Regions from separate parts of the Homo sapiens genome. Here region 2 is reported to be linked to region 1. The links are microRNA targets in miRTarBase. Many come from high-throughput screens and were not tested one by one. Region 1 holds a microRNA gene; the other region holds the end of a gene's coding sequence.

Region 1 (5,377 bases):
AGAAACAGTCTACATAATTACCAATTTATTGTGCAAAACCACCTCAGAATGGCAATTTTAGATAAAGAGCTGTCCGCATCCAAATGAATAAAACAAAATAATCCTGTTTGAGGCACCGCAGTTACATTTTGCTTCTCACGACTTAGCAGTGTGGCACTATTTAAGCATTCAATGAGAGTGCTATAAACTTCTTTTATAGAAAAGACGTCTCAAATCATTGTTTTTGTGCTTTAATGCTGCACTCAATTTCACACTTACTCGTTTGAGGACTGGAATCAGGGCCTCCTGAGAGCAAAAATCTGTCGTCTGTATTTGCAACACCTAGGCTGGAGCTTTGAGCGTGGTGGGCGGATCAAAAACTGTTTAATTGGTAGGTAGTACAACAGACCCCAAAAATGTCTGACCTATAGGTATTTAATACTATTGTAGCCTATCTCAGTGGGAAGTGAACAAAACAATATAACTTAGGGTCTTAACTAACACCACCACTTAGGGTCTTCCCACCACATCCTGGGGATTAGAACATGGGTTCTTCCATCAACAGCCTGAAATAGCACTGCAGCTGCAGTGAGGGGGTGCAACATATGTACTGGCAAGTCTTCCCAGCAAATGCTACTTCCGCCCCCCACTCTCAGCCCACTGGGCAGGGCAGCCATCTAGAGGAAGACTGTGGCAGGGGGTTGGGCTTAGAAATGGCTTCCTAGGTGGCTGATTTGCCATCATTTATTGCAAGCCACTGGCTTAAAAGAGTTCTACTGAGGGTAGTTCATAGTCATGCACCTCCTGTGCAAAAAGCCTGATCAAGGGGCCACAGCCCGCCTTCCTGAAGATCCTACAAGCTTGATCCCCTATCAAATCAAATCTGGCTAATCTCTGAATAGCTTTACAAAACTGGCTCACTGGGCCAGGCGAGGTGGTTCACGCCTGTAATCCCAGCACTTTGGGAGGCTGAGGTGGGTGGATCACGGGGTCAGCAGTTCGAGACAAGCCTGGCCAACATGATGAAACCCCGTCTCTACTACAAAATACAGAAATTAGCTGGGCGTGGAGGTGCCACGCCTGTAATCCCAGCTACTCGGAAGGCTGAGGCAGAATTGCTTGAACCCGGGAGGCGGAGGTTGCAGTGAGCGGGGACAGTGCCATTGCACTCCAGCCTGGGTGACAGGGTGAGACTCCGTCTAAAACAAACAAACAAACAAAAAAAAAAAACAAAAAAAAACTGGCTCATCTTGTTTTGAAGTGTTGACATAAACTAATAGTCAAAAGCACCACTCAATCTTTTATAATGCAAGTGAAATCAGTGCTGTGCCCCTTCAAGGAACCATGTGACAGTATGTTTAGTTGAGCACCAGTTCCTTGCAGGAACAGTTGCTGGCAGAAGGGCTGTGTCTACAGCCCATGTGGAACTAAGGAGTTTTCCCATTCAGTAGGGAGCATCCCTCAGCCTTGATCTTCAACATTTCTTCTCTTCCCTAATCTTTTCTCTCATTTTATTTCTTGGCTCATAGAATTTCATTCTTCTCTTAATGGGCTTCATTTTTAATGTCTGGCTGGCTGTAACCTACTTCAAATTCTTTATGAAGTAGGCAAGATCTGCACAGCCAATTAATTTTTCAGGACCCACTTCTTATCATCACAGAATTATGAATGGGAAATAATAGATGAAAAACACAGACATGATAAACTGAACATAGTATTTATTAAGGTCAGGATGCATGAATAGACTCTTCTCAACAGAAAGATAATTCAACAGCAATCAATTTACAGAATTTAGAACAGCACTACATTTCAGCAAAATGCAACTAGAGAACATCAGATAAATTATAGTAATTTGTTTTTAAAAATCCATTAAACTATCTCTTACCTCTGCAATAATGTATCATACATGCAGTTACAGAAGTTAGTAGGGAAAAGCATGATCTTCCTTCCCTATTCTCTGCCCATCCATCTTCCAGGAAACCACAGGCTGCTGCTGCCCAGAGTTGGCATGAGGCTTCGAGGCTGCTGCTTTTCCCCCTACATCATAACCGATTTCAAATGGTGCTAGACAAAAACAGACTCTGAACACCAGGAGAAATCGGTCAGCCTGTGTAAGAGATGGGCCAGTGGTGCTCCCAGGGTCTGCACCTCGACAGTCCAGGTGGCAAGTCTGATTTCGGGTGCCCCGCAATCAACGCCGAATACTCCAGGGCATCCTCTAAGAGCAGACTGATGGTGTCGATGTGGACAAAATGGTCCTCCAGGTGTACTGCCCTCTCCCCTGCCCCATGACAATCGACACCCAATACATTGTTATCCAACAGAATATGACAATCGCCACACTCAAAGGCCCTACGAACACATTCATGCTGGTGATGGCTGCTAGGAGTCAACAGAAATAGCATCACAACCTCTGCCCCTGCTCAAGCCACTGTGTTTATTTTAAACACAACCCCCTTCTCTACTGTCACCTCTCCCAAAACCCAACAAACTCAAGAGTGTATTTTGCTCTTCAAGTTCTTCCCTGGACTTCTCGAACAGACTCAAGTGGCAAGAGGAGAGGAGCCAGTTCCATGAGCAGCAGTTCCTCTGCAGTCCACCCTTGGCTGTGCTGCAATTCTTACTCCTAAAACACTGATTTCAAATGGTGCTAGATACAAAGATGGAAAAATCTAAGCCACCATGTGAAACCAGCTTCCAGAAGAAGAGGATCTCAATGAAGAAAGAAGGGAGATTCAATCGGAAGACCCAGCCTCTGCCCTGAGGAGAAATATCTTCTTGTAGTTCTACTTGTGATATGACACAGTGCTCCATGGGAAAGGCACAGAGGAGGTTACACAGGGCTGCACAAGGCAACATGAAAGGCACAGCTGATGCTTCAAATAGATGAGAGCAATACAAAACTCATTAATTCTAGGTTAATTCTATTTAACTTCACACCAGTCACTACAAATTATTATATATGATGAAATAAAAGCTAAAATTATTACTAAAATACATTAATATTTACATTTGTACTGCCCTGCATTTGTATAGTATTTCACAGTACACAAAGTGTTTCCAGATATATTCTCTTACTTCATCAGGACACAAGCACCCTATCTGCCTGTGGAATGAAGCTCCAGCTGCTACACAAAGGCGAGTCTCACCTGGGCCAGGACAACTCTTTTATGTGTCTTAACTTGAGAAAAGCATGCATTCCTCCTTCCCACCCCATATGTAAGTATCAGAACATTCAAATATGACCCCATGAACCTGCAATCTTATTTAACCCCGATGTGACTTCAAAAACTGGTACCCTATAATTGTATTAAGCAGATAATCCTCTAACGTAAGAATTGAGTTTTATTTTCAAAGTCTGCTTGAAAATAAGATTTGCACACTGTATTCCAAATTAGATTTCCCATCTCCTTACTGCATCATCTTTTTTGGTGGTTTGAAGCTAAGAAAATATGTGTATTTCCTCTGATACCATAACCAAGAGAAAAGAGACAGAGTAGACACTGTATATTTTAGCTTCCTTTCAGGCCTCTAGATACAGCCTTATAATTTTTATGGTTCCTGGCACTAACAGTATGTGTTGCTAGAAGGAGAAGAAATAGAATTTGAACATCAAAAGTTGCGGTGTTTAATTCTCACAACAGTCGTATGGGGCAGGTATTATTCCAATTTTTGCGAAGAAATTCATCCTTAATGAGGCTAAATAACTTGTCTGCAGTCACACAACCAATCAATGCAGATCCCAGGTCTAACTCCAAAGACTGTGTTTCTGCCCTTGTATCCACTGCAGCCTGCTCCATAACTTGACTATCATCTCATTTTGTTCTTGAACTTCATTAAGAACAAAACAGGGTGGGTGGGGCAGGAAATTCCTAGGCGATACTTCTGCACTGAATGGGATCATACTGACTACATAACACGTTATACTTAGGGGGAGACAGGAGCATCATCTGGGTTCTGCGAAAGCCGGGTGGTCTGGGGCAGCTTGCTTTGTTCTCCTGCTCCTCTAGCGCCTTTGCCGTCTTTCCCCAGCATGTGGCTGTGGGAAAGACACTGAAGATGAACCTGCAACAAGCGATTCTGACACCAGCGCTAGGCTCTACAGCCCACGGGGGACTTGCTAGCCTCAGTCACAGGTGGGAGAGCTGGGGCAGATCTGCACACAAGGGCTCTCAGTGATGACACCTGTAGCCAACACCTGGGGCTTGTTAACCAGGTAACAGCCAGGGTTGTAAGGTCAGGAGTGAGTGTTTAAGGACAGTTACTACTGGGAGTCCAAATCCTGTCAAATGAGGGGATTTGATGAGATTCTCACTTTTCTGCTTTTCATTTTAGCCACTCTTCCTTATCAACTTTTAGTTACCAGTACCCCCTCCCTATGAGCTATCACACAGGTGTCCCGCAGTGATCAGAAAGCACCTTCCTCCATGGCGAGGTCCTGCCTGCCTAAGCTGTTGTCTCTTCTGGAATACTCTCCTTCACCCTCCCTTGGCTACCACCCCTCAGCCCCGCCCCCACCCACCACCACTCCAGGGAACCTGTCATCCTCCCCGCAGCTCAGGAAAGCCTCCCTGAGTCCAGCCCTTGCTAGAAGGTTAAGTGGTCCTCGCCAGCCTCAAGTTCTTTCCTTCAAAAACCACTTATCTCACTTGGTCATCAGTGTGATTATTTAATGTCTCTCCTGCTACCCGTAAGGGACCATTCGGAGTACAGCAGAGGGGCTGTGCATAGCAGGACGCCACTGCCACTGAGGGAGTTAACAGAAGCCACAGTCTGGGTCCCCACTCCTGGATTCTAAAATTTAACTCTTTACTCTCTGGAAGAAGAGATAAGAAGCCATTAACAATGCATCACTTTAATTAAACACTCTAAAAGAAGTGGAGAAAAAAATCATGTTAGTATTGAAATCCTTTGCCTTTCCAATTCCACTGGATAAAAGGGGTCCTTCAGGTCTCAGCCCTCCCAACAGAACCAGTTTTCTCCTCTCAGAATCAGCTGAGCAATGACTCTTCGCTGAAACAAGCTGGTGGCTGTTCCCTACTAGGAAGCAGCCAGTTAGTTTGGTAAGGGCTGGAAGGGGCTTGCTTTCCCTGGCACCATGCCTGAAGGCCACCTAGACCTGTAAGAAGGCAGCCCATGAAAATCCCAGCCTGCTGAGAGCTCTGCCATCCAAGGAGGGTGATGGGTTTTACCCACCTCAGCCTAATGACTCCAAACAAACTGGCTGAAGGTGAAAGGGTTGGCAGGGCTGTCTGGGGAGGAAAACCACCCATCCAGAAGGGTGGGCATGTCAGTCTTACGAGTGCTGCCACGCATGGGAAAGGTGTGGGAGCTATACTCTAGCCTGGTCCACTTCTGTCCCCACATTCTACCTGGAGGCTTCTCGACCTCACACCAG
Region 2 (5,377 bases), not on the chromosome of region 1:
GGGAGCTCTTTCAGATGGCTCCCGTGTCCCTTCCACATGTCTCCATTTGGGGTTTTATTTGAGCACTTCCTTACTTTCTGGCACTACAAGATGTTCCAGTCTCATGGTCTATATTTCCTGCCCCCGTCTCGGAATCAGCCATCTCCCCGAGGAGCCTCGGGTCCTTTTATTGGAGAAGTGTTAGAATCCCAGATCTGGGGCCAGGTGTGCTCACTGCTCCTGCAGGGCTGCTTCTCTGAGGCCCTCTCAGCTGACAGAGTGAAGAAATACATGTGTCTGTACTAACCCCTACAGATATTTCTTTATGTGACTATAGGTGTCTATAATAGGTTAAACCCGAGTTCCTACTGATATCTCGGACTCTAACCATTGTGTCATTTCCCCACTTTGCTGTAAATTCTCCTTCAACAATGAGAAACATGGCTCCCACCATCGACCATCCGCTTAATTAATGGTTCTTTTTTTTTTTTTTTTTTTTTTTTTTGAGACAGAGTCTCGCTCTGTTGTGGGATTACAGGCGTGAGCCACCGCGCCCAACCAATGGTTCAGTTTTAGCATGAATATAGTGTCAGCACTGTTCACTGGTACTCCTGCAAGAAACAACTTTATCCACTAGAGTACAATGCTGTGTGCAGTTCTCTTTGCCTTTGTTCTTAGAGACGCCACTCATTTCCAAATTACTTATATTATTAATAGCACGTTTCCCCTACCGGCTTCAATGAGCTCCTGAAACTTCTGTGGTTTTTTCTTTTTAAATAAGTGGATGGCCCTTTTCCAGGAAGGCAGCCTCAAGGAAAAGCCACCTCCAGGTGTAACCAGAAGCACTGAGTATTTCTCAGGGGGAAGGACAGCCTTACATTTTATTGGCTGAGCTGAACTTATGCTGTATGAATACAAATAGCTCATAGATGTTTGTAGCTTGGTGCCTTCCTGAGTCTGCAGAGTGAGGCTCTTGCTGTACCACGTGTGGGAGGTGAGGATGCTGTTCCCTCGTTGCCTTCAAGACATCTGCTTGGGTTTGGTCTGTCACTTTAAGATCAGCTCAGTGTTACCCTTCCCTTCCTTGTCTAGCATGTCATGGAATTTACTTTCCAAATCATTCTCCTCCCTTCCCTGCACTGTGCATTTTAAATCACAGTCCTCAACCTCAACACATTTAGAACTCCCAGGTTGCAGCGATTCTCTACCTCCTTCCTCTTAGGTCCTGGACACGTACGAGTGCATACATACCTGCGGCTTTGGGCACGTTCACGTGTAGTGACTGATTTCATTCTCCTGATGTCACTCTGATGCACAGGTACTTTCATTCATTTTACCGGAGGCCCAGCCCACTGAAGCAACCCATCCAGGCCGTCCTTGCCAACGTGCTCTTCTTGGGTGGTTTAAAGGCTGATGTGCTCTCCAGGGCTTGTGAGTCTTCCTGGGCGCCCCTACCCAGTCAGGATGGCTGCAGACGCATCTTCATGCGCATTCCAGCAGCGTCTCTGCCAGGGGTGCTGAAAGTCACTGTCTGAAGCAGCTGGGAGATGGAAGTGATTCTGACTTTGGGGCACCCACCCTCTGGAAAATGTGGCACATCATTAGAGGGTGGTTCAAGCACACTCAGCTCTCAGGGAGCAGTTATTCCTGGCACCAAGAAACTAGCCTGGAAAAAATCTGTCTTTTGCAACATGCAGGATCCATGAAGGACAGAGCTCTGATTTTCAAGGTGCAGGATGTTCAGCGGTTCGATTCCAGATGAGGCATCTCCACTCACTATACTTCAGCGGGATCGTGGGCTCCCTGGCACAGATGTCAGGGTTATGAATTGTGATTGGTTTATATTTTATGATCCACATTTTGGAAACCAATTATTTGTTGAGGATCTTTGTCTTCTCATTTATTTTAGGTCTAGGGTGAAACATTTCTTTTATGTTTAACACTGGGCACTGACGCTGAGGTGTGATCCACACACAAGGTATCAAGCCTACCTCAAGTCGAGCAGGGGTCTTCAGGACTGCAGCACACTTTGCGGTTGCCTCCTTGGCAGTAGGGGTGGAGTCTAGAATGAATTGTTGCTTCCCAGCTTCTAGAGTTGCTGTGGTTGCGAGCTCTGGTCTCTTGATCCCCGTCTCACACGCTCTGGGCCCACTGTTTTGCTACAGCTATTGCTGTGGTGACTGGCCATGAGCAGGTGTGGCCTGACACACCGTGTCTCAGCTCTGCCTGGTTCTCTACCACCTCCACCTGGCATCTGGCAGGAGCCCACTCAGCCATGCTGGTGTGTGGTGCACCTGGGAGTGTGAGGGAATTAGCACCCTCAGGCAACCCCTGACCAGTCGAGACCGCAGCTGATGGAGAACACTTCCCTTTCCAAGCCATGGCTGGACCATCTGAGGATCCTTCCTTGGTGGATCCCCAGCAGGATCAAGCCTAAACAGCCCACAGTGGTAACCCCCTTAGTCCCATGTCCTTGAGTTGGCTTTTCTTCTTCCTGGTATCACCCCCTCCAGGTCCCACTCAGGCTTCCTGATATCGCCTTCCCATATAGCCGTGCTGTGTAGAGGTCGTGGCCTCAGCCAGCTTCTGGGGGAACACGCGCCAGGGCGGCTGCGTATCTATTTCAAATAACATTATAAGGTAGGATACTTATTTCATAATGTGAACCTTTTTCTTAGGAAAACTTCAATTTGAGATTGCATTTCAGAGGGTCAAAATAAACTGTGAGTTGAATCTCGGAGATTGTTTCTTTGAAATACTGAGCTTTGACTTGGGAAGTTATGTGGGATCTTTTTTTTTTTGTAGACATGGATCTCACTATATCGTCCAGGCTGGTCTCAAACTCCTAGGCTCAAGTGATCCTCCCACCTCAGCCTCCCAAAGTGTTGGGATTACAGATGTGAGACACTGCACCCAGCCTATGTTGGAACAAATTGAATGACTTACATTTGTGAAGTACCCTTTCTCCAAATTCCCACAAGTGCTGGTTCAGGTGTTTTCTTTTCTTTTTTTTTTTTTTTTTTTTAGATGGAGTTTCACTTTTGTTGCCCAGGCTGGAGTGCAGTGGCACGATCTCAGCTCACCGCAACCTCTGCCTCCCGGGTTCAAGTGATTCTCCTGCCTCAGCCTCCCGAGTAGCTGAGATTACAATCACCGGAAAATTTTTATGTTTTTAGTAGAGACGGGGTTTCACCATGTTGGCCAGGCTGGTCTCGAACTCCTGACCTCAGGTGATCCAGCTGCCTCGGCCTCCCAAAGTGTTGGGATTACAGGCGTGAGCCAGCACGCATGGCCTGGTTGGGGTGTTTTCTGTAAGCATTAGTGAGTTATAAACAAACACATTCCCCGAGAAATGGCTGTAATACCACGAATGGGTTCAACTCTACTGAGATGGATTAAAAACAGCAGCGTGGGCGGACGCTGTGCCTCGCATCCATCTGAGCAGACGTTTTGCTCTATGGACACGAGATTAAGGCGGTCAACAACTCGGGGTTTAAAAATATTCAGAACCAAGTTTTATTTTGTAGTCGTTACACAGGAGGGGGCAGTCAGAAGAGTACAGCTCACCCCCAGCAGTGGAGGGGTTAAATCTCAGGGACAACGTGGGGCAGTGGGGACAGCACCTCCGACCCTATGGGGTGTACCTTCAAGTAGCAAGGCTGACAATGATGTCTAGAAAGGTCTCCACTTCTGCCTGAGTTTTGCCAAACCCAGTGGTCTATAGGGATGTGGCAAAAGAATGACCTACCGCAGTGTGATTATCAGTGTTTTTTAAAATAAAGAGCACGGTTTTGCCTTTAAAATAATTCACATCAACGGTATTTGGGAGAACATGGAGCTGGCATAACATTGGCGTAGAAAGCAGGGCCAGGCCCACCCACGGGGCCCTCGTGTGGGGACGGGTGCCTGAGGCCCTGAGCCCCTCGAGCCTCTGGCCACGGCTGGCTGCCTGTGTGCTGTTGTCTCGTCTGTCCCACCCCGAGAAGGGAGTTGAACAATGTGAGTTGTCTGTGGCATTGGAAAGTGCAGTGGTTACATGGGTGTGTGCGAAGTGGTTAGCTGTGCCTTCAGGCGGTGCGTCTAGCAGGGCTGATGGGGGCCAGGGCTGCTCCTGGCTTTCTGTGGGCAGGGCTTGCCCTCCAGGGACCCCGAGTGCTTGCACCCGCTCGGTGACAGTGGCTGGCAGGTCTAAGTGCTGCTGCTGGATGCAAATTCCTTTGGTAGACTTTTTTTTTTTTAAGAAAAAAATAAAACCAATTTTTGGGTTGGCACCTGAGGTAATAAGTTAAGAATAAGCACCAAAATGGCCCTTCCTGGCACGCGCCGGCTCACAGGTTCTTCATGCACACCTGGCAGCGGCTGATGTGTGTGCGGATGAGGCCGGCCTTGAGCGTGTCGGCGGAGGGCGAGCCCTGGAAGCTCTGCTCGGGAATGGTGGTCAGCCAGAAGCTGTACTTGTTGGCGTAGTAGTGGCAGGTGCCGCGGCCTCCATTGCATTCGATGAATGGTGTGGCGCGGAAGTCCTCTAGACAGCTGCCCGGTGACACCAGTGATTGGCCACCGCCTTCGTCTCCCGCCGCCGTGTGCTGCACAGAGAGGGGGGCAGGACAGGGTTAGGAATCACAGCCTGCAGGTGGCACGGGGTCAGGGCATAGCCCTCTTCTGTGCATTTGTTTTTACTGAACAGCAAACCATGAGTGTCAATACGGACATGAGGCATCCTCGCGAATGCGCCTTCAGCAAGAGGGGGCTGGTGAAATACACATGGGCCCCCTGCAGGAGGCAGCCCCAGGCACCAGGACGTGCTGCAGAGGCAGCTGCATGGACACTAATTCACAGCCAGGCTGGCCGTTCGGTAAGAACTAGAGCCGTGACAGCAGATACGAGCGGTAGATATAATCCACTGCATTTCAGTAACAAAACAAAACATCTGCCTAATCATCCATTCAAAGAAAAATACCTGGCAGAAGAGATAACACAATGTTTACTCTTTTTAGAAGAAAAAAATAAAATTAAGATGTAGGCTGGCATCTGAGGCTAATAAGTTAAAAATAATCACCCAGCCAGGCCTCCCAGCTCCTTCTCTGAAAATGCTGATGATCAGGGAGGAAAGATGAGTGGTTTTATTTTTTTTTTTAAATCTGTACTTGCTGATTTTTCACAATAAATATGTATTACTTGTGTAATTAAATATATATTTTTTCAATCAGAGGTTGTTAAATAGTTGATTCTGAGGCTGGCTGGGAGATGGCTGAGGTCTTCAAGGAAGCCTTTTTTTTTTTTTCATTTTAAAGTTCTACTTTCTGTTGCATCAACATGTTTAGCCTTTATGGAAGCGCACGGCAGGCCTCCTGGATCCCAGAGTTGGTGTATAAGGGCCATTTGGCTTGGCTGAGCA

Evidence for each region. The annotated mature microRNA hsa-miR-29c-3p reads UAGCACCAUUUGAAAUCGGUUA and lies in region 1 at 2,025-2,046, opposite strand. An mRNA with a match to its seed (bases 2 to 7 or 8) in the 3' UTR can be bound and repressed. Matches are read on the target gene's strand: a 7mer-m8 pairs with bases 2 to 8, a 7mer-A1 pairs with bases 2 to 7 and ends in A, and an 8mer does both.
Region 2: the mRNA of COL4A2 is a reported target of hsa-miR-29c-3p. Seed matches in the 3' UTR shown: 7mer-m8 at 4,274-4,280.

The regions. Positions count from the first base shown.
Region 1 is chr1:207,799,841-207,805,217 of GRCh38, forward strand. It overlaps MIR29C (microRNA 29c), which reads right to left and starts at 2,099; the gene lies at 2,012-2,099. It overlaps MIR29B2CHG (MIR29B2 and MIR29C host gene), which reads right to left. Exons shown (of 6, transcript NR_135299.1): 6 at 1,678-2,822. It overlaps MIR29B2 (microRNA 29b-2), which reads right to left and starts at 2,683; the gene lies at 2,603-2,683.
Region 2 is chr13:110,511,122-110,516,498 of GRCh38, reverse strand. It overlaps COL4A2 (collagen type IV alpha 2 chain), which reads right to left. Exons shown (of 48, transcript NM_001846.4): 48 at 3,290-4,565. The coding sequence ends at 4,308. Among named protein-coding and RNA genes, the nearest start is that of COL4A2-AS1, 5.6 kb to the right of the region's middle. RefSeq lists enhancers at 1,730-2,229, 3,955-4,583.